2 separate regions of the Homo sapiens genome follow, and region 2 is linked to region 1. The links come from fine-mapping of genetic effects on gene expression. A gene starts in region 1. The other region holds a variant in brackets. All regions are shown on one strand. Distances are from middle to middle.

Evidence for each region. PIP is the estimated chance that this variant, and not a neighbour inherited with it, causes the effect.
Region 2: its variant is fine-mapped to the expression of DNAJC16 in atrial appendage (GTEx, PIP 0.94).

Annotation. Positions count from the first base shown.
Region 1 is chr1:15,520,634-15,531,458 of GRCh38, forward strand. DNAJC16 (DnaJ heat shock protein family (Hsp40) member C16) reads left to right here and starts at 6,215. Exons shown (of 15, transcript NM_015291.4): 1 at 6,215-6,325; 2 at 8,455-8,639. The coding sequence starts at 8,473. It overlaps CASP9 (caspase 9), which reads right to left and starts at 3,582. Exons shown (of 9, transcript NM_001229.5): 1 at 3,436-3,582. The coding sequence starts at 3,567. RefSeq lists silencers at 3,552-3,941, 4,222-4,661, 6,100-6,239, 6,361-6,655, 6,580-6,679 and enhancers at 5,871-6,374, 5,890-5,989.
Region 2 is chr1:15,576,093-15,586,917 of GRCh38, forward strand. AGMAT (agmatinase (putative)) reads right to left here and starts at 8,959. Exons shown (of 7, transcript NM_024758.5): 1 at 8,604-8,959; 2 at 7,101-7,303; 3 at 4,002-4,050; 4 at 2,767-2,962; 5 at 1,593-1,772. The coding sequence starts at 8,875. RefSeq lists an enhancer at 8,452-8,501 and a silencer at 8,612-8,941. The variant C/G (reference allele first, on the strand shown) is at 5,321.

The DNA of each region.
Region 1 (10,825 bases):
GACACCCATTACTTAGCAGACCGCGAAGGGGAGTCTCCTGCCAGGCGCGGTGGCTCACGCCTGTAATCCCAGCACTTTGGGAGGCCAAGGCAGGCAGATCACAAGGTTAGGAGTTCAAGACCAGCCTGACCAACACGGTGAAACCCGTCTCTACTAAAAATACAAAAAAATTAGCTGGGCGTGGTAGTGCGCACCTGTAATTCCAGCTACTCAGGAGGCTGAGGCAGAACAGCTTGAACCCTGGCTGGGCGCGGTGGCTCAAGCCTGTAATCCCAGCACTTTGGGAGGCCAAGGTGGGCAGATCACGAGGTCAGGAGATCGAGACCATCCTGGCTAACACGGTGAAACCCCATCTCTACTAAAAATACAAAAAATTAGCCGGGCGTGGTGGCGGGTGCCTGTAGACCCAGCTACTCGGGAGGCTGAGGGAGGAGAATGGCATGAACCCGGGAGGCGGAGCTTGCAGTGAGCCGAGATTGCGGCACTGCACTCCAGCCTGGGCGACAGAGCGAGACTCCGTCTCAAAAAAAAAAAAAAAAAAAAGGAAAATAGCTTGAACCCGGAAGGTGGAGGTTGCAGTGAGCTGAGATCGTACCATTGCACTCCAGCCTGGGCGAAAAAGTGGGACACCACCTCAAAAAAAAAAAAAAAAGAAAGGGAGTCTCCTTTCCTTGGAGGCGTCAGGGAGCACTCTGCTCCACCAGCTTCTTGTGGGAGGCTGGATATTATCCATGCCTGCCCGCAGTCATCCGGAGACCTAAACCCCTCCCTGTGGTGCTGTGCTTCCATGGTCACGCTCCTTGCCCACTTTCATGTTCCTCCCGTACTCCTGGTTCCTGTTTGAAGTTCATAGATAGCGGTAGAAGAAATAGTGAAAGTCTTAAAGTCTTTGATCTTTCTTATAAGTGCATAGAAGAAAACGCTGACATATGCTGCCTTCTCTCTCTGCTTCAGCTACCTAAAAGGGAAGGGCCCCCTGTCCTATGATCACGTGACTTGCTTCACCTTATCAATCACTTAGAAGATTCACCCTCCTTACCCTGTCCCCTTGCCTTATATCCAATAACAGCGCAGCCAGGCATTCGGGGCCACTACCCTGTCTCCACGTCTAGGTGGTAGTGGTCCCCCGGGCCCAGCTGTCTTTTTTTCTATCTCTTTCTCCTGTGTCTTTATTTCTACGATCTCTCATCTCCGCACACGAGGAGAAAAACCCACAGGCCCTGTAAGGCTTGACCCTACCAATTTTTAGTTTTATTTAATTTTAATTACTTCAAATTTACCTTTAACGACATGTGGCTAATGGCTACTGTTGGGAACAGCACAGACCTACAGTGCCACTGAGAAGGTAAGTCTCACTAGCAGAACAGTTGGCTACATGCAAATAGATGGTGGTGTTTAGGTTTCTCTCCACATTTGCTGAACACTCCAGGAGGTCAACACTGTGTTAAATGCATTGTTTCATCTTTTTCTCCCTCAATAACTTTATAGAGTTAAATTAGAACTTCCCAACTTTTTAGGGTAAAAAATTTCAGGGAAACTGAGTCATAGGGTTTTTCTGTTTGTTTGGCTCATTGGTTGTGGTTTTTTACAACTTGCTAATATGTAACAAGGCCAGGATGAGAGCCCAGATCCAACTGGTTCCAAAACCTGCCTGTTTTTCAGCCATACTGAATGGCAAAATGGCAACCTGTGGTTCCCACAAGGTTCTTAAAAAATTTCTGAATTTGTTGCTAACATTTTAAGCCAGGGAATTTGACAGAGGAATCAAGATTTTCAGCTTCTTTTTTAAGATGTGAAAGCTGGGCCGGGTACAGTGGCTCACACCTGTAATCCCAACACTGAGGCAGGAGAATCACTTGAGGCCAAGAGTTTGAGACTCATCTAGGCAACATAGCAAGACTCCTATCTGTACAAAAAAAAAATTTTTTTTAATTAGCCAGGCATGGTGGCATGTGCCTAAAGTCCCAGCTGCTCTAAAGGCTGAGGCAGGAAGACCACTTAAGCCCAGGAGGTCAAGGTCGCAGTGAGCCATGATCTCATCCCTGCACTCCAGGCTGGGCAAGAGTGAGACCCTGCCTCAAAATAAGTGTAAGATGTGGCAATACTGGGCCATTTGTTGATATGGCCATACTCAGCTGGAGACGGAGGGCAGTGCAAAGGCTATCCACTATGACGCCCATCCATTGGTCCTCCATGGGCATTTGAGTTTGTGATCCCCGTGAACATTCCTGAAGGCAAGGACTGTGGCCTCAAACCATTACTGTTCCCCAGTAGGGGCCACACAGAAGGCACAAAACTTATTTTATTATTAATGAATAATTACTCATATGATACTCAATTATTTAAAGACTCTTTCCCTGGGCCAGGGCACTGGCCAGGGATATCCAGCCAGCCACTCACACCTACTGCACCTCATGGTAGGAAATATCTCCTGCATCCTCACAGGCCTGTGATGAGGGTCAAATGAGACAAAGATGGGAAAGTGCTTTTAAACAAAACCTCAAATGTTTGACTTCATTATTCTCCATTCTGCATCAGGTCCCCTCATTTCCAAAACCTCTTAACAAAACATAAACTGAACACAGAAGGGGCTGGCCAAAGAGGGCAGGGTACGCTGATCCCCCGCTCTGTGCCTAGCACTACAGTTTCACATCCGTTATTTCATTTAGTCCTTATGACAGTATTATTCTTATTCCCATTTCACAGCCCAGAAACTGTGGCTCAAAGAGGGTAAGTGACTGGCCCAAGAACACGCTGCCAGGCAGCCTGATGCCAAAGTGGGTTCCCGAAACCTCTATGCTAGAAAAGTAAAAACGCACACGCCTCCTTCCTCGCAAGTATTAACGTAAATTAAAATGGAGACCAACCATGAAGAATTCCTGAGCAGACAAAACCAATCAGGTATCCTAAGTGACCTAAATCTTGCTTAAACTGCAAACATAAGCAAAATTTAACTTGGGTCATATCTGATAAATGCTTATGTTAGAGAGAAATAAAACTTAAGACCAGCCAAAAGCAGTCAATTAACAGACCTTAAAAAAAAAAGGCAATTTTGTAACTGCAAACCAATCAAATAATTTCTTTATTTTGCTTCCACATTTTCCCAATAAATACTTGCCTCTGACGTTTTGTCATTGCAACACTAAAGCTCTTTCAGTCTGATGTTCTCCAATTCATGAATTGTTTCTTATTCAAAGTTCTCAAGATGTGTCTCACATTTTTCCTTTACACAAGAAACACAAGCACTAACAGTGTACGCTGACTGAGTATGGCATGGAATCGCTTTAGCGAACACCCGACTAAGAGGTGTTTGGGATTCTTTGGCTCCGCTGAGGGGTTTGAAGCCACAGGGAAGGCTAGGCTCCCGCACAACGCCTCCTCGAGGGGCGTGGGGACCCGGCCGTGCAGCGCGGGGACAGGGGGCCGGGGGCGCACCTGGATGTCCTCGATCATATGGGGCCTGAACAGCTCGCGGCTCAGCAGGGCGTCCCAGAGCTGGTCCACCTGCAGCTCTTCCACCAGCCGCAGCCGGCACCGCCGCAGGAGCCGCCGATCCGCTTCGTCCATGGCGAGTAGCCAACTAAGACTCCAGGCCGCCTCAGTCCGCTTCCGGGCCTCGGCCGCCCGCCCCAGTCCCCAGGACCCGCCCCCGCCCCAGGGCCTGCCCCCGCGTCACGGCCCCGGGTCAGTCTTCGCTCCCCACCGCCTCCGGACGCATCTCCAAGGCCTCGCCCCGCCCCCAGGAGTCGCTCTTGCGTCACCGCCCCGCCCTCAGGACGCACCTCTGCGCCTCGCCCCGCCCCCAGGGCCAAGCCTCCCATCACCGCGCCGCCCCAGAACACGCTCCGCGTCACCGCCCCGCCCCAGAACCCGCCCCACGTCACCGCCCCGCTCCAGAATCCACCACTGCGTCCCCGCCCCAGAACCCGCCCCGTATCCCCGCACTGACCTCACGTCACCGCCCCGCCCCCGCGTTACCGTCCCGCCCGCAGGACGCATCTCCAACGCCTCGCCCCGCCCCAAGGATTCGCTCTTGCGTCACCGCCTCGCCTTCAGGACGCCTCCGCGCCTCGCCCTGTCCCCAGGGTCAATTCTGGGGTCACCGCCTGTCCCCAGAACCTGCCACCGCGTCACCGCCCACTCCCCGGGACGCATCTAGAAGGTCTCGCCCCGCCCCCAGGATTCGCTCTGCGTCATCGCCCCGCCCTCAGGACGCACCTCAGCGCCTCGCGCCGACCCCAGAATCCATTCCGCGCCACCGCCCCGCCCCCAGGATTCAACCCACGCCCCCACCCCGCCCCCAAGGTCAATCTTGCGCCACCGCCCCGCCCCCAAGGGCTAGCCTCGTGCCACCGCCCCGCCTCCAAGAGCCAATCCCCTCCCCTCGCTCCACCCTCAGAATCGTCCTTGCGTCACCGCTCAGCCTCAGACTCCAGTTCGCACTCTCGCCCCGCCCCCAAAGTCAATCCTCACCCCCAGGATCCATCCTTCTGTCACCGCCCCGCCCCAAGGCGGCACCTCCGCGACTCGCCCCGCCCCCAGGGCCCCGCCCCGCCCCCGCATCACCTCCCCACTCCGGGCGCAGGTGCCCTTTTGCAATTCTGGCACCAGTTCCTGGTCCACCGCGGGCCCTTCGCCAGAATTCACTATAGCCCCGCTTTTACAGAGATCCGGAGGGAGTCGTCACACTTCCAGCAAGAGGGAAACCATGAGTGGAGCCGTGATCTGTCCCGCCCATTCAACCTCCTCCGGGGCATGGCTTCCCCTTAGCCCCCTCCTCCACCCCAAGTAAAACCATAAGCTCCCCTCACCGCCCTTGTGCCCAGATCGCAGTTGACTGTTCCAAACTCGAGTGTCTGATCCAACCAAGCCCACCTTACACAGTCTTCCATTCCCTCTTCCCTCCCTCCCACCCTAACACCTCCCACACAGAAAAAAAAAAAAACGGCAGAAATCTAGTCCTGTAAACTCCCATCGTTCTGAACGGTTCATTTTCACATTTCAAAAATAATCGTTTCTGTTTACTGAGCATTTGCTAAGTCCCAGGCATCGTGCTAGCCACTTTTCATGCTTATTTCACTTATCCTTAACTACAATCCTGCCAGGAAAGTATTCCCACCCCCCGCCGGTTTTACAGATGTAGACCCTAGGGTTCAGGGAAACGAATGTTTAAGGTCACTTGGGTACTAAGTGGCCGAGGCAGGCAGGATTGAAACCCGAACCTGACTCTGTAAGCCACACTCTTAAGAATCCACCTTAGAATATAATCTCTTGAGCACCAAAACCTCAGCCCCATTCGTTCACTTCTACGAATATTTATTGAGCCTGTAGTCAAACACTAAGAACATGAAGGTGAACAAAACAAAATCCCTGCTTTTAGAGTTTACATTCCAGTGGAAGGATCAGGTGATAAACTATATCAATAAATAAGACATACTATGTTAGATAGTGATAAATGCAAAGAGAAAAAAATAAAAACAAGACAGGGAGATATGAAAGCTCTTTATATCCGCAAGGGATCTATCTCATTGGCTCAAAGAAAGTTTCCTTCACTTACCTGTGCCTTATCCCTCTCTCCACCCCCACCGCCCTTTCCCCGTGCTTAAGGCACAGACTGGTACATTCTTGGGTGGAGCTCGGTTTTCGGTAAACGGGATTAAAAGTCCTGGATTCTCTCAAAAAAAAAAAAGATAAGTAAACAAAAATAAAAGGAATGCTGGATTCTAGGCCTTGGGCAAATCTCTGCCCCTCTCTGGACCTCGGTCTCCCTATCAATATTGCAGGAGTTGGAGAGTTAAAGAATCCCTAAGGTCACTTCCAATCTGACGCTCTAAGGTTCTACGAATAGGGTTAAAGAGAATAGGGACCAGAGAGTGCGTCCCCATCCTAGCAACTGTTGCTAGACGAGGGCCATCTCCCGGTAGGAGCGGAAACACCTTCCTGGATCGAGGAGGTCCTTCTGGTATCCCATCATGCATAGCGACTTCGCCTCGCTAGGAGGCACGTTTTGGCCTCTTTGGTCACGATCAGCCTTTTGGCTGCAACCAAAGAGCGCGCCTCGTTTCTATAGCAACCACCCCAGGTCCACGCCTAGACGGCGAGTGGCAAGGGTCAAAATAGATTCGCCCAGTAGACGCCCTCGACCTGTTCGGTCCTCGCCTTCAGTGCGATAGACCTTTAAGCGTCACGTGACTCCCCTCGGGCTTGTCCCCTCCTCTTTCCCCTCCCCAGGCCCAGGCGAGCGCTGGTGTGGACGGGAAGCTCCCGGCCCGGCGAACTAACTGGAGCACGGAGCTGCAGCCGGTTGGGCCGGTGTACTTTCCCGGTAACTCCTTCCCGGCGTGACGCGCGGAACCGCGGACGCGGCGGGGCCAGGCCGACTCAGGGATTTCCCCTCAGTTCCTTCTCGTTTCCAGTCACTGCTGGCCCCGGGGGGAGCCGGGAGCCAACAGGGCCGGGCCCTGGGCTCTCGGAGGGCGGCGGGGGAGGGGGCTGTCTCCTGCAGGGTTGCGACCTCCGGCAGGAGCGCGAGGCGGGGCTTAGACCTGGAGCTTGTCTCTGGGAGCTTCTTCCTGGTCCTGGATATGCTGCCCAGAGAGCTGGCAGCCTACCTGTTGGGCAGGTGTTTGCTGCTCCGAGGTCGGCGCCGTCTATCTCGCATGTCAGCTAAAGAACTTCCCAGACCACCGCCACTTCGGCCCTCTAGCTGGAAGGAACTGACATGGTTAAATAAGGCAGCGATCGTACTGCATGGTAGAAATAATAGCACTAACGACCATTTGTTGACTGTTGACTCTGGGCTCAGTAAACCCTTTACATGCATTTAGTCCCCACATGATGATCCTTCAAGGTGGTAGTATTCATTCCCATTTTATGAATAAGGACGCTGATGCTTAGTAAGTTTAAATAATTTGCCCAAGGTAATAAAGTAGTGGAGAATAGATCCTAGTCTTCAACCCATATGCTTAACCAGTAGCTACATTGCCTTCACGTGTTTTCTAGGATATAATAGGTTGCCTTAACAAAGAAGAAACTGGTTTGTTTTAGGATTTTATTCAGCACGTATGCAATTTTAAACGTTGGTCATCAGATTAGTCAATTTTGTGAGGACTCCCAGGCGGCATTAAACTTGCACTTACGGAAATCCACCACTGTTATAGCTTTGCCCTTCTTCAGTAAGGTGTCACAGAAGACACTTGAACCTTAAAACTGTATTAACTTGTGAGAAATCAAGATAAATGTGTTCCTTGAAAAAAAACATTGTAGGGTATAACAGCAATCATAATTGTGGAGTATAAATATCTGCAGTTCCAGCACTACCCTGTTCATTAACCAGCCAGGATTATTTCCAAAATTCACAATGAATTAAGTCACTGTACTCACCAGAGATGGAGCTTGAAACTTTTAAAGACCACGCCTGCTATTTGGTCTTTGCCGTTAATTCTTCTTCACATGTAAAACTAAATTTTTTCTTGCCGCTTTTTCTCATCTGAGGTTTCCATTAATAATGACCATATTGGCCGGCGCGATGGCTCACGCCTGTAATCCCAACACTTTGGGAGGCCGAGGCGGGTGGATCACCTGAGGTCAGGAGTTCAAAACCAGCCTGGCCAACATGGTGAAACCCTGTCTCTACTAAAAATACAAAAAATTAGCTAGGCAGGGTGGCGCATGCCTGTAATCCCAGCTACTGGGGAGGCTGAGACAGGAGACTTGCTTGAACCTGGGAGGGGGAGGTTGCAGTGAGCTGAGATCCCATCATTGCACTCCAGCCTGGGCAACGAGTGAAACTCCGTCTCAAAAAAAAAAAACAAAAAAACACCATATTACTAATGATTAAAGAGCAGCTTCTCATTTTCTTGTTTGAATGGTGTGGTGAGAAAGAATAGAATTGAGGCATACTGCGTCTTAACTACACAGTTTTTTGAGAGTGTTTCACGTCCATGTTTGTACTTATTTAATGCCCAAGAATGCCACAACTATCTCATTTTGTAGTTTTGTACATGGTAAATCTTACAGTTTCATGAGTTTGTTTAACATGTACTCAATGAAGTATTCTTAAACCATTTATTTTATTTATTCTTATCAGAATAAATGAAATCATGTATTTGAGAGGTAGTCGTCCTGATTATCCTATTTAGGTTTTCTCTCATTTATGTATTATTTCTGCATCCCATTCATTTTCATTCATTTCTAAAGCTTTTCTAGTCAAAGTGTTCTGGAGAGTTGCTATTCTTATTACTCATCTTTTCATCTGTAATAGTTCTCATTTGTGATATTCAAAAGCAGTAGCGAGATTTTTATTTTAAGATACAGTTCAACAGCTTGACACTTTTCCTGCAAAATACCTTTTGTTGGTTTTGTTTTTCATCTATATATCTTATACCTTTACCTAAAAAGCAAGACTGTCCAGGTTTCTGCCACTGAAACTCATTGCCTCTTCAATCATTTCAGCTCTGGAAAGGAAGAGAAATGGAAGTGAGAAAGTTGAGCATTTCCTGGCAGTTCTTGATAGTTCTGGTTCTGATCCTGCAAATTCTGTCTGCGTTGGATTTTGACCCATACAGAGTCCTAGGGGTCAGCCGAACAGCCAGTCAGGCTGATATTAAAAAGGCTTATAAGAAGCTCGCCCGGGAATGGTAGGTGAAACAAAGAAATAGAGGTTTAACATAAGCTAAACAGTCTTAGCAGGGATGAAGTCTAAATTATGACTAGCTTTTATTTGTCTCTGTTTCTATGTTCAATATATATATCTGTCTAAAATATTTTACGCAGGAGAGCTAATGTTCATGTTCTATAATTGTTAGCGATAAGATCCAAAGCCTATGTTTACTCTGAAACTCCCTTTTAGGAATACTTTGGCTTAAAGAATTGCCTTAGATACTGTTAGCATATTTAATGTTAAAGTAACAAGTTTTAATTTTAAAAAAATGTATATATAGTCAATAATGGATATGCTACCCTTCCCATGATACATTATTCATAAAGTAACTTTATGAGTGTAATTGCTAAACAGGAACACTATACAACCCTATTCTCTAAATTATTAATTTCTACACTTTGAAAAAAAGTTAAGAGTAATAGCCTTTTGCCTCCAAAAAAAAAAATTCAGAAACCAAGGATAGTTGTCTCTTGATATCCATGAGGTCTTGGTTCCAGGATCCCCAGAAATACCAAAGTCATTGGATGCTCAAGTCCCTATATAAAATAGCATAGTATTTGCATATAATCTATGCACGTCCTCTCATATACTTTAAATCATCTCTAGCTTACTTATAATACCTAATACAATGTAACTGCTGTGCAAATGGTTGTTATACTGTTATTGTTTAAGGAATAATGACAAGAAAAAAGTCTGTACATGTTCAGTACAATGCAATTTTTTAAAAATATTTTTGAATATTTCAAAATAGAAAATATTATATTTTGGTTGGTGGAATCCATGGATGTGAAACCAACAGATATAGAGGGCTGACTATATATTACTCAAAAAAAAAAATTGGCCTGGCATGGTGGCTCATGTTTGTAATCCCAGCACTTTGGGAGGCTGAGGTGGGAGGATCGTTTGAGCCCAGGAGTTTGAGACCAGCCTGGGCAACATAGTGACACCTCATCACTATGGAAAAAAAAAAAAAGCCCAGAAGTTTGAGGCTGAAGTGAGCTATAATCACACCACTGCACTCCAGCCTGGGCAACAGAGTGAGACCCGTCTCAAAAAAAAAAACTTACAGAAAATTGTAATTTTGCCTGTAGTTATCAGGATAGCAATTAGCAGGGTAGCAATAAATCTAAAACTTTGGACAAATATCATCAGTTTCTTCCACCAATGCCTTGGCCATGCCAAAGAAGCAGAAGTGTTGGATTATATAGATGGAGGGGGAGCAGCAGAAGGAGGAAAGGACAGAGGTGACTCCAAGCTGGCTGTACCAACCATGAGGAATGGAAGAAAGTTTGGGACAGGTACCATCACTGAGCACCTACTACATGCTAATCTCCTGGTTCTATACTTTTTATCTCATTTAAACCTTATAATGAGCCTATGAAGGAGGATATCAGTATCTCTTTTTTTTTTGAGACGGAGTCTCGCTCTGTCACGCAGGCTGGAATGCAGTGGCACAATCTTGGCTCACTGTAACCTCCGCTTCCTGGGTTCAAGGGATTCTCCTGACTCAGCCTCCCAAGTAGCTGGGACTACAGGCGTGCACCACCACACCCAGCTAATTGTTGTATTTCTAGTAGAGACGGGGTTTTGCCATATTGGCCAGGCTGGTCTCAGACTCCTGACCTCAAGTGATCCGTCCACCTCGGCCTCCCAAAGTGCTGGGATTACAGACGTGAGCTACCATGCTCGGCCAGTGTCTCTGTTTTATAGATGAGAAGATGGAGGCTTAGAGTTGGTAAATCTGTGGTACCTCTGGGTTCCGTAGTTTGACCCTCTGCATCAGTAGTCCATTGCTTTATTGTTTTTTAATCATTTACACATCTAGGCATGAGTAAGGGTGAGTGGGCTAATGGTTGGCTGGGGAGGAGCTGAATGCGAGTAGGAAGTTATCCAGAAGCAAAACTGCCACATTGAGGTGATGCATGGTACAGACTGCATGCGTGACTGCGCCTGACACTGTTCTGCTTCAGTGAACAGGTATATTTTAGCATTAAACTGGTTGAAATAAAGGTAAAGATCATTGAAAATATATTTTTAAAATAAATGTTTTAGACCATATTCCATGAGAAATCCAGAATTGGATGCCAAAGAAGCAATCTCTAATTATACATGACCTCCTTCCAGGGACTCTTTATACCAAGGTTATGTTCTACATCATTTCAG
Region 2 (10,825 bases), 55 kb after region 1:
GATAAGTTTAGTGTTTTTGTTTGTTTTGAGATGGAGTTTCACTCTTGTTGCCCAGACTGGAGTGCAATATCATGATCTCGGCTCACCACAACCTCAGCCTCCCAGGTTCAAGTGATTCCCCTGCCTCAGCCTCCCGAGTAGCTGGGATTACAGGCATGCGCCACCATGCCCGGCTAATTTTGTATTTTTAGTAGAAATGGGGTTTCTCCATGTTAGGCTGGTCTCAAACTCCCTACCTCAGGTGAACCACCCGCCTGATGCCTTGGCCTCCCAAAGTGCTGGGATTACAGGTGTGAGCCACTGCGCCCGGCCAAGTTTAGTGTTTTTGTTTGGTTGGTTGGTTGGTTTTTTTTTTGAGGTGGAGTCTTGCTCTGTTGCCCAGGCTGGAGTACAGTGGCACGATCTCAGCTCACTGCAACCTCCGCCTCCAGGGTTCAAGCAATTCTCCTGCCTCAGCCTCCCAAGTAGCTGGGATTACAGACGCCTGCCACCGTGCCGGGCTGATTTTTGTACTTTTAGTAGAGACAGGGTTTCACCATCTTGGCTAGGCTGGTCTCGAACTCCTGACCTTGTGATCCACCCGCCTCGGCCTCCCAGAGTGCTGGGATTCCAGGCGTGAGCCACGACACCTGGCCAAGTTTAGTGTTCTTTTTTTTTTTTTTTTTTTTTTTTTTTGAGATGGAGTTTCACTCTTTCGCCCAGGCCAGACTGCAGTGGTTCTATCTCGGCTCACTGCAAGCTCTGCCTCCCGGGTTCATGCCATTCTCCTGCCTCAGCCTCCTGAGTAGCTGAGATTACAGGCACCCGCCACCGCGCCCGGCTAATTTTTTTGTATTTTTAGTAGAGACGGAGTTTCACCGTGTTAGCCAAGATGGTCTCGATCTCCTGACCTCGTGATCCACCCACCTCAGCCTCCCAAAGTGCTGGGATTATAGACGTGAGCCACCGTGCCCGGCCAAGTTTAGTGTTCTTAAGAGAGGATACTATAATGTTGTTCCTATGAACTGTTGTTTTCATGACAGATGAACTGAAGGCAGGAAGAGCAAATAAAGGACAAAATAAGGGACTATTATATCCCAGATAGGAAATGAAGGCCCTTGCCAAAATCAATCACCCTTCAGTAAGAGGGTATTCAAACTTATCCTCAGCCCAGAGAACAGAAAAGGCCTAGGTGCTCTGCTCTTAAAATCCTACCTTGGCAGCCAGGCGCGGTGGCTGACACCCGTAATCCCAGCACTTTGGGAAGCCGAGGTGAGTGGATCACGAGATCAGGAGTTCAAGACCAGCCTGACCAACATGGTGAAACCCCATCTCTACTAAAAATACAAAAATTAGCCGGGCGTAGTGGCATGTGCCTGTAATCTCAGCTACTCAGGAGGCTGAGGCAGGAGAATCGCTTGAACCTGGGAGGCGGAGGTTGCAGTGAGCCGAGATCGCACCACTGCACTCCAGCCTGGGCGACAGAGTGAGACTCCGTCTCAAACAAACAAACAAAAATCCTATCCTGATTCCTAAAGATTCGCTTCAAGTCCCAGGAAAATGGGTGTTAAGTGTCTCCACCCCCAGGATCTTCACTGGTGGAATCTCCTTACCTGACTAGGAGTGAGACCAGCAATTTCAGGTGTCCCTGTCCCTGGCGCATAGGCAGGATCCAGAGCGTCAATATCAAAGCTGATATAAATGGGTTTGCCTCCCATCTGCTGCCTGACTTCCCCCATCAGAGGAACCAGCGACTTCATCCAGCAGTCTTCAGCCAGGACTACCCGGAAGCCCTGCAGAGACAGGGACTGAGGTTTCTGTCTGGCAGCATTTACAGGGCATTTCCTGTTTGCCAGCCCCATGCTCAGCTCTGTGTGCACATGACACTTGACCCTCCATCTCCATGAAGAGGGAACTATCCTATTTTACAGGTGAGGAAGGGAGGGACAATGAGTGGTAAGGAAGCAGGGTCAAAGCTGACTGATGGAGTTGGAATCAGAGAGAAGCTTTGCTAAAGCAAGAGTGGGAAACAGCAGCTCACGCTAGCACCTTTTGAATTGCTCTGTCCAGAAGACTGGCCTTGGCACGCTCTAAAAGCAAGGGATTTGGGTCTGTTCCATTGGGGTCTTGTCATACACGTCTATCTGAGAGCCATTCTGCCTAGAGGGTACGAGGACCAGAACTAAGAAGGTGGCAACTCATCTTGGGTCCGGACTTCCTCCCCTCTTTTTTTTTTCTTTTGAGATGGAGTCTCACTTTGTCACCTAGGCTAGAGTGCAGTGGCGCGATCTCAGCTCACTGCAACCTCCACCTCCCACGTTCAAGCAATTCTCCTGCCTCAGTCTCCCGAGTAGCTGGGATTACAGGTGCGCACCGCCACACCTGGCTAATTTTTGTATTTTTAGGAGAGACGGGGTTTCACCATGTTGGCCAGGCTGGTCTCGAACTCCTGACCTCAGGTGATCCACCCACCTTAGCCTCCCAAAGTGCTGGGATTACAGGTGTGAGCCACTGTGCCCGGCCTCCTCCCCTCTTCTAAGCCAGCACCGTCCGAGGGGTTGGTCGATTTCTGCTTGTCTCCCCCGCCCAGCGATAGACTTCCCATGGCCCATAAACCAACTTCCTCACTCCTATGCTCCTTATGCCCCTGATGATGCAAACTCAGCCTTGTATCCCTGCTTCAGACTTGATTAGTAAAGCCCCCGCTCAATCCCTGGCTGCCACTGGTGAGGCAACGGAGAGGAAGACATTTTGAGGGGCAAGGGTGGGGGGCATTCGGTCTGTCACCTGGCTCCGGTTGTATCTGTAGGGATCCAAGGTCGTGGAAGAGCCCCGGATGCCAATCTGCACCACACGCTTACAGTCCAGGAGACCCTCATCCACACACCGGCGGAAGGGCGCCCCGTGGTAGAGCTTCTCTCCTAGGGCCTTGTCGGTCGTGTCCGTGTGCGCATCCACGTGCAGCAGCCCCACTGGGCCATGCCTGATGACAACAGGGCAGCTCAGAGGCCAACCCTCCCTGTGGGGCCCTAGCACAGCCACCCTTCGGGCCACCAAAACTTGGTGACAATTCACAGCCAAAAAGGGGAGACCTGGCATCCGTTTTCTGCCTTGCAACTGGTTCCTGTCTTCTTGAGATCACTTTGCATCTCAGAGGAACAATAAACTCACAGAAGTCAGGCAGGAAATAGACATGTTTTGGCTGCCACCCACACCTATCACCCAGAATTTGCTTCACTTAGAGACAGGATGAGAATCAAGGGTGGTGGCACAGGGGAGCTTGGCTGAAGGCTTAACTAAACCAAGACACACCCTTTCTCCAACCGAGGAAGAGGAAGCTTTAATCCAGCTCTCTCCATAACCTCCATCAACCCCTGCCAGCCACCCAAAATAAACATCTGATCCAAATCCGTGAGGAATAAATGCAGCTTTGAGCAAAGACCTGCACCCTCCCACCTCCAACCAGAATGCCACCCACATGTGCTTCCACAGACACATTCTGGAGCTGCCACCCTCCACCCGGGTCCTTCTGTCTCTTTCTCAAACTAAATTAGCCAAAGTCGGCCAATCCTGGGTAGACTTCCACTACTGGCAAATCAGTCTTTTGATTGAGAAAGGTGCCCTTTCAGGAGGAAACAAGGGCCTCTCAGCAAGGTCCACCATTGTGCCTGTCAGTGTTTGTTTTTGGCCATTGAAGCAAAACAGAAACTGAAGTTAACTGAGGTTGTGTATTTCACTAGAGGCTCATCTTCCAAAAACAGAAGCAAGTTGAAAATGCTGAGCACACATACCAGGAGAGATCTAGGGCAAGGGAGGGTGGCCAGAACTGTTAATAATAAATTGTCTTGGCTTCTAGCTGCTGACTGACAGAGACACCTGGAGCTCAACCTTAATTTTGATCCCCAGAAGCAGCTCATAACCTGAGCCAGCAGCAGTCACCTAATGCCACCAAACAGCAAATAACTCATTCCCTAGCTTCTGGCTTTTGAAATCTTGCTGGGCCCAAGCCATTTGAGACTTACTTTTTTGCCATCGCTTGCAATATGGGATATGTGATTGTGTGATCTCCACCTGCAAAGAGGAAGAAGAAAACATCTGGAAAGTGAATTGGAGGATTACATAGAATAATCTTTTTTTTTTTTTTTTTTTTTTGAGATGTAGTTTTGCTCTGTTGTCCAGGCTGGAGTTCAATGGCACAATCTCGGCTCACTGCAACCTCTGCCTCCCAGGTTCAAGCGATTCTCCTGCCTCAGCCTCCCGAGTAGCTGGGATTACAGGTGTGTACCACCATACCTGGCTAATTTTGTATTTTTAGTAGAGACGGAGTTTCACCATGTTGGTCAGACTGGTCTCAAACTCCTGACCTCAAGTGATCCACTCGCCTTGGCCTCCCAAAGTGCTAGGATTACAGGCATGAGCCACCATGCCCAGCTGAATAATCTTAACTCAATTTTCACCCTTTCAGCCTGGGGGGAGTTATAACCACAGCTACAGTAAGATCTTATAGAATGGCAGGATGCTGAATGAGCCTGGGAGGTCAAGGCTGCAGTAAGCTGTGATCGTGCCACTGCACTCCAACCTGGGCGACAGAGTAAGACACTATCTCAAAAAAATGAATAGCTTGCTGGGCACGGTGGCTCATGCCTGTAATCCCAGCAGTTTGGGAGGCCAAGGCGGGCAGGTCACCTGATGTTGGGAGTTCAAGACCAGCCTGACCAACATGGAGAAACCCCGTCTCTACTGAAAATACAAAATTAGCCGGGCATGGTAGCGCATGCCTGTAATCCCGGCTACTCTGGAGGCTGAGGCAGGAGAATCACTTGAACCCAGGAAGCGGAGGTTGCGGTGAGCCAAGATCGCGCCACTGCACTCCAGCCTAGGCAACAAGGGTGAAACTCCATCTCAAAAAATAAAATAAAATAAATAAATAAATAGCTTGAGCCTAGAAGTTTGAGACCAGCCTGGGCAACACAGCAAGACCACGTCTCTAAAAAATAAAAATAAAAATAGACCAGGCGCAGTGGCTCACACCTTGGGAGGCCAAGACAAGCAGATCGCCTGAGCCCAGGAATTCAAGGTCCACCTGGGTAATACATTAAGACCCCGTCTTTGCAAAAAATACAAAAATTAGCTGGGCATGGTGACAAACGCCTGTAGACCCAGCTACTCGGGAGGCTGGAGTGGAAGGATCACCTGAGCCCAGGGAGGGCAAGGTTGCAGCGAGCCATGTCGGCACCACTGCACTCCAGCCTGGGTGACAGAGTGAGACCGTGTCTCAAAAATAAATAAATAAAAGAGGAAATTAGACAAGTTAAGAGCTACTCTAGGAATTGCCTTTTCA[C/G]AGTATTCTAGGAAAATGCCTAGAATAGCTCTGTTCAATAGAACCTTCTATGATGATGACAATGTTCTATCTGCACTGGCCCATATGGTAGCCACTATCCACATGTGACACACATGTGACATACATGTAGCTAATATGACTTAAGAAACTGAATATTTTATTTTAATTAATTTGAATTTAGGCCGGGCGTGGTGGCTCACGCCTGTAATCCCAGCATTTTGGGAAGCTGAGGCGGCGGATCACCTGAGGTCAGGAGTTCGAGACCAGCCTTGCCAACATGTTGAAACCCTATTTCTACTAAAAATGCAACAAATTAGCTGGGCGTGGTGGCACGCGCCTGTAATCCCAGCTATTCAGGAGGCTGAGGCAGGAGAATCACTTGGACCCAGGAGGCGGAGGTTGCCGTGAGCCAAGCGGGACAACAAGAGCAAAACTCTGTCTCAAAAAAAAAAAGAATTTAAGTAGCCACATGTGGCTAGTGGCTACCTTACTGGACAGCACAGACCTAGGAAAGTATTCTTTCTGATAATAATAACAGTTAACATTTATTGAAGCTTCAGATATGCCATGCATAGGTCGGGCGCAATGGCTCACGCCTGTAATCCCAACACTTTGGAAGGCCGAGGTGGGCAGATCACCTGAGGTCAGGAGTTCGAGACCAGCCTGACCAATATGATGAAACCCCGTCTCTACTAAAAATATAAAAATTAGCCGGGCATGCTGGCGGGCGCCTATAATCCCAGCTATTCAGGAGGCTGAGACAGAATTGCTTGAACCCGGGAGGCGGAGGTTGCAGTGAGCCGAGATCGTGCCATTGCACTCCAGCCTGGGCAACAAGAGTGAAATTCTGTCTCAAAAAAAAAGAAAAAAAAAAAAGATATGCCATGCTTGATGCTGGGCATTTCATGTGCACTTTCATTATATGCCCCTCACATCATGCAGTGAGTAGGTGTTACTGTGATCATTCCCATCTTACAGGTGAGGGTGTGAAGCATCAAGCACGGTATACAGCAACATTGCTAGGGAGAAGTGCAGCTGAGACTTCAAACCATGCCATCGGGAAACCACACTCCTCCCACTATGCCATGCAGGCTAGGCTCTCTAACTTGGCAAAAATGAATTTGGATATTTAGGAAAAGATCCCTGTCATTTTAAGTATTTGTGAACAAGAGAAAAAGTGAGAGTGGGTCAGGGGTGAGGATAAGGGGAAAGCTGCCCTATAGGTTGATGTAGACCCTGAGCAGGACAAAAACACCCTCTTTGCAGTTCTCCTCGCAAATAAAGTCATTAGAAACATCATCTTGGCCAGGCGCGGTGGCTCATGCCTGTAACCCCAGCACTTTGGGAGGCCAAGGTGGGCGGATCACTTGAGGTCAGGAGTTCAAGACCAGCCTGGCCAACATGGCAAAACCCCGACTCTACCAAAAATACAAAAATTAGCCAGGCATGGTGGTGGGCGCCTGTAATCCCAGCTACTTGGGAGGCTGAGGCAGGAGAATTGCTTGAACCCAGGAAGTGGAGGTTGCAATGTGCCGAGATTGCACCACTGCACTCCAGTCTGGGTAACAGAGTGAGACTGTCTCACACACACACATACACACACACGTGAAATATTCTCTCCCCAGGGATTAAAATAAATGAATTACAATGCTCTCTTTCCTACTGTCTGCACATTTGCAGTGGCTTGCAGGGGAGAAGTAGCTGTACTCAAGCCCCTGAGTACAGGATAAGTAAACCCTGAGTGCAGGGAACTACTCTGGCTCTTGCAGACTGACATTACCCAAGGTCAGAGGAATACAGCCAGCTGCTACAATTTTCTCATAGGCCTCTTGAATTCGCCGGCAGCTGTCCTGAAGGTTGTAAAGATTGACATTCACATCGCCTAGGTCTGCAACCATGAGGGACTGGAAGGGGAGGGCCCCCGTGCTAGGATTGACTGTCCCAAGCATCACTGATTCTTCCCGGATGCGGCGAGGTCCGAATCTGCAGAAGGAAGAATCATCCTGTCAGCCATCATCTGCAGAGATTTCAGGCTTTGCTTAGGCCAGGGCTTCTCAGCCTCAGCAATTTGGGGCCAGATGATTCCGTGTCGCGGCATTGCATAATGGAATGCTTAGCAGCATCCCGGCCTGTACTCACTAGGTGCCAGTAGCACCCTTCCTCCAAGGTGTAACAACCCAAAACGCCTCCAGATACTGCCAAATGTCCCCGGAGTGCAAAACCGCCCCACTTGAGAATCACCGATCTAGGCTATGTATCGAAGAGACTAAATAAGTGTACTAAATGGCATTAGTGAATTTCATGATCTACCTGAGTCTCAGTTTCCTAATTTGTAAAATATTTACCTTGCACTGTAGTAAAAATTAAATGAGGTAATCTATGCAAAGCACCTTGCACTTAGGAGACATTTAATAAGTGCTGGCTTTCATAATTCAGATCAGTACGGTCAGATATAGTGTTGCTGAGCTGAATCAGAAATTGCTGACGTTCAATAACTAGGAAGATGAATTTTGCTTCCTCCGACTTGATCCTAGGAAAATTGCCTTCATTTGAGCATTTCTTGAGTCAGGTGACATCTTCAGATTTGGGGAAGGGGCAGCCAGTTTCTGCTCTCAAATGCAATGTCACCTGCCACTGTAAGCTGGGGAGAGGAGAGGGGAGGAATCCACAGCAGCCATCCCAGCAAGGCCCCAGGATGGGGACACAGAGAAGGTTCAGGCTCCAGAATCCCTTCTTTTTTCTTTTTTTGAGACGGAGTCTCACTCTGTTGCCCAGGCTGGAGCGCAGTGGCGCAATCTCAGCTCACTGCAACCTCCGTCTCCCGGGTTCAAGCGATTCTCCTGCCTCAGCCTCCCGAGTAGCTGGGATTACAGGCCCGCGCCACCATGCCCGGCTTTTTTTTTCTTTTTTTTGTACCTTTGTAGAGACAGAGTTTCACCATGTTGGTCAGGATGGTCTCGAACTCCTGACCTCGTGATCCGCCCGCCTCAGCCTCCCAAAGTGCTGGGATTACAGGCATGAGCCACCGGGCCGGCCAAAATCCCTTCTTGACCAATGATGACACTAAGATGTGGGAGGCCACGCCCATGTTGAGCCCTGGGGTTTGCTTATTGAGGGTCCAGGTAAATCAACCATCTCAAACCATAAGGGGCATTTTGGAGCCGGCCACCAGCTTCCAACTCGACCCGGGGCCAGCAGGGGCGCCTGTCTCGGTGCTTTCCATGCCCGACAGCCAGCAAGCAGTCCCTCCACGTGTACCCGGCCCCCGTCCTTCCGGCCTTACCTCGCCCCAGGCCGGTTGGAGGTCCCAGTATCCAGGGGCACCCCGATGAAGGCAGCGTCCAGCCCCTCGGGGGAGGTCTGCACCGGCAGGCGCATCATGGAGCAGACGCCCACCGGCCGGGCCACGAACTCGGGGCTGGGGGGCTGGTTCCGGGGCGCGTCGGAAGCCTGGCGGCTCTGGCGGCGCCCCGGATGAAAGAGCCCTGCGGCAGGACGCGCGCCCACGCCGGGCCCCGGGCCCCGGGCGCACCCGGACGCCAGCAGCCTCAGCATTGCCGCGCGCGGCCAAGACCTCACCGACCAAACCGCCCGCGAGGCCGCCGCGATCTGGCTGGTCCCGAACGGCGAGGCGAGTGTGCACGCGCCAGAGCCGGAACCCGAGCCGGCTCAAAGGTCAGGGGCGCCCTAGGATCAAGGCGGGGGAGGGGCCCCAGGACCTGCCGTGCTCTCCCCTCAACCCCTCTGGACTTCAGCCTCTGGCAAATAGAGTCAGGCTGGGGGTGCCCACTGGCCGGCACTGTGCCAGGGGTGTCTGCGCCCTGCTCCCCACTGTGGCCTTCAGCAGCCTCTTCTCCCATTCAGAGTAATTGTTTGTTTTTATAGAGACGGTCTCACTGTGTTGCCCAGACTGGTCTCCAACTTCTGGACTCAAGTGATTCTCCCACCTTGGCCTCCCAAAGTGCTGGGATTACAGGTGTGAGCCACAGCAGCCACCCCAGAGTAATATTTTTAAAGCCAGAAAGATATGAAGGAAAATGATCTTTCTCTAAGCCAGAAAAATAGGAAATGCATTTTTTTAAATAATGTATTTTTAAATGTCCAGGGATAGGAATCTCAAGAAGCAGTAAAGTTAGTTAGCTACTTAGCTAGCTAGCTAGTTATTTTGAGACAGGGTCTTGCTGTGTTGCTCAGGCTGGAGTGCAGTGGCACAATCATAGCTCACTGCAGCCTCAAACTGCTGGGCTCAAGCAATCGTCTCACCTCAGCCTCCCGAGTAGTTGGGACTACAAGCGTGAGCCATCGCGCCTGGCCAGTAAAGTCTTTTTAAATAACCTTGTTAAAAAAGGACTAGAGGCCAGGGGCGGTGGCTCACGCCTGTAATCCCAGCACTTTGGGAGGCTGAGGCGGGCGGATCACGAGGTCAGGAGATCGAGACCATCCTGGCTAACACGGTGAAACCCCATCTCTACTAAAAGTACAAAAATTTAGCCGGGCATGGTGGCAGGTGCCTGTAGTCCCAGCTACTTGGGAGGCTGAGGCAGGAGAATGGCATGAACCCGGGAGGCGGAGCTTGCAGTGAGCTGAGATCAGGCCACTGCACTCCAGCCTGGGCAACAGAGCAAGACTCCGTCTCAAAAATAAATAAATAAATAAATAAATAAATAAATAAATAAATAAAGGACTTACAGGCAAGCTGTAAGGAAGGTCACAGTGCCAGAGAACCTGTTACATCCTCTTTATTTCTAAGGGGAAAGAAAAACACACGTGGAAAGAAAGAAGTGATTTGTAATGGAATTATGTGAGCCATTTAGCAGTATTATATATATTATTTTTTCTGATCTCTAAATGTTGAGATTGAATGGAAAAGGCTCACATTTGCATTTACGTTGCAACCTCTACACAAAGGTTGCACATTAGGCCAGGCGCGGTGGCTCACACCTGTAATCCCAGCACTTTGGGAGGCCGAGGTGGGCGGATCATGAGGTCAGGAGATGAGACCATCTTGGCTAACATGGTGAAACCCCATCTCTACTAAAAATACAAAAAATTAGCCAGGCGTGGTGGTGGGCACCTGTAGTACCAGCTACTCGGGAGCCTGAGGCGGGAGAATGACGTGAACCCGGGAGGGTGGAGTTTGCAGTGAGCCAAGATCGCGCCACTGCACTCCAGCCTGGGCAACACAGCAAGACTCTGTCAAAAAAAAAAAAAAAGGTTGCACATTAAACCCCACACCACTCCAGCCTCCACTCTGGAGTGGAGCCTCCACTCTGCAGGTCGGGACAGAGTTTCCTAATGGTCAATTATCAGTGCTTAGTGTTGGCCTTGGGGCAGGTCCCAGCCATTTTCTGGAACAAATGCAACAATCTCTCAGTTATTTTTTCCTTTTTTTCTCCCTTATGCCACTTAAAGGGTCTCAGTTATTCTCTTGACTCCCAAATTCAACTGCTATTTCTTTCATGTTGCTTGTCCTGAATGTATCATGTTCTTACTCCGGGTTTTTCT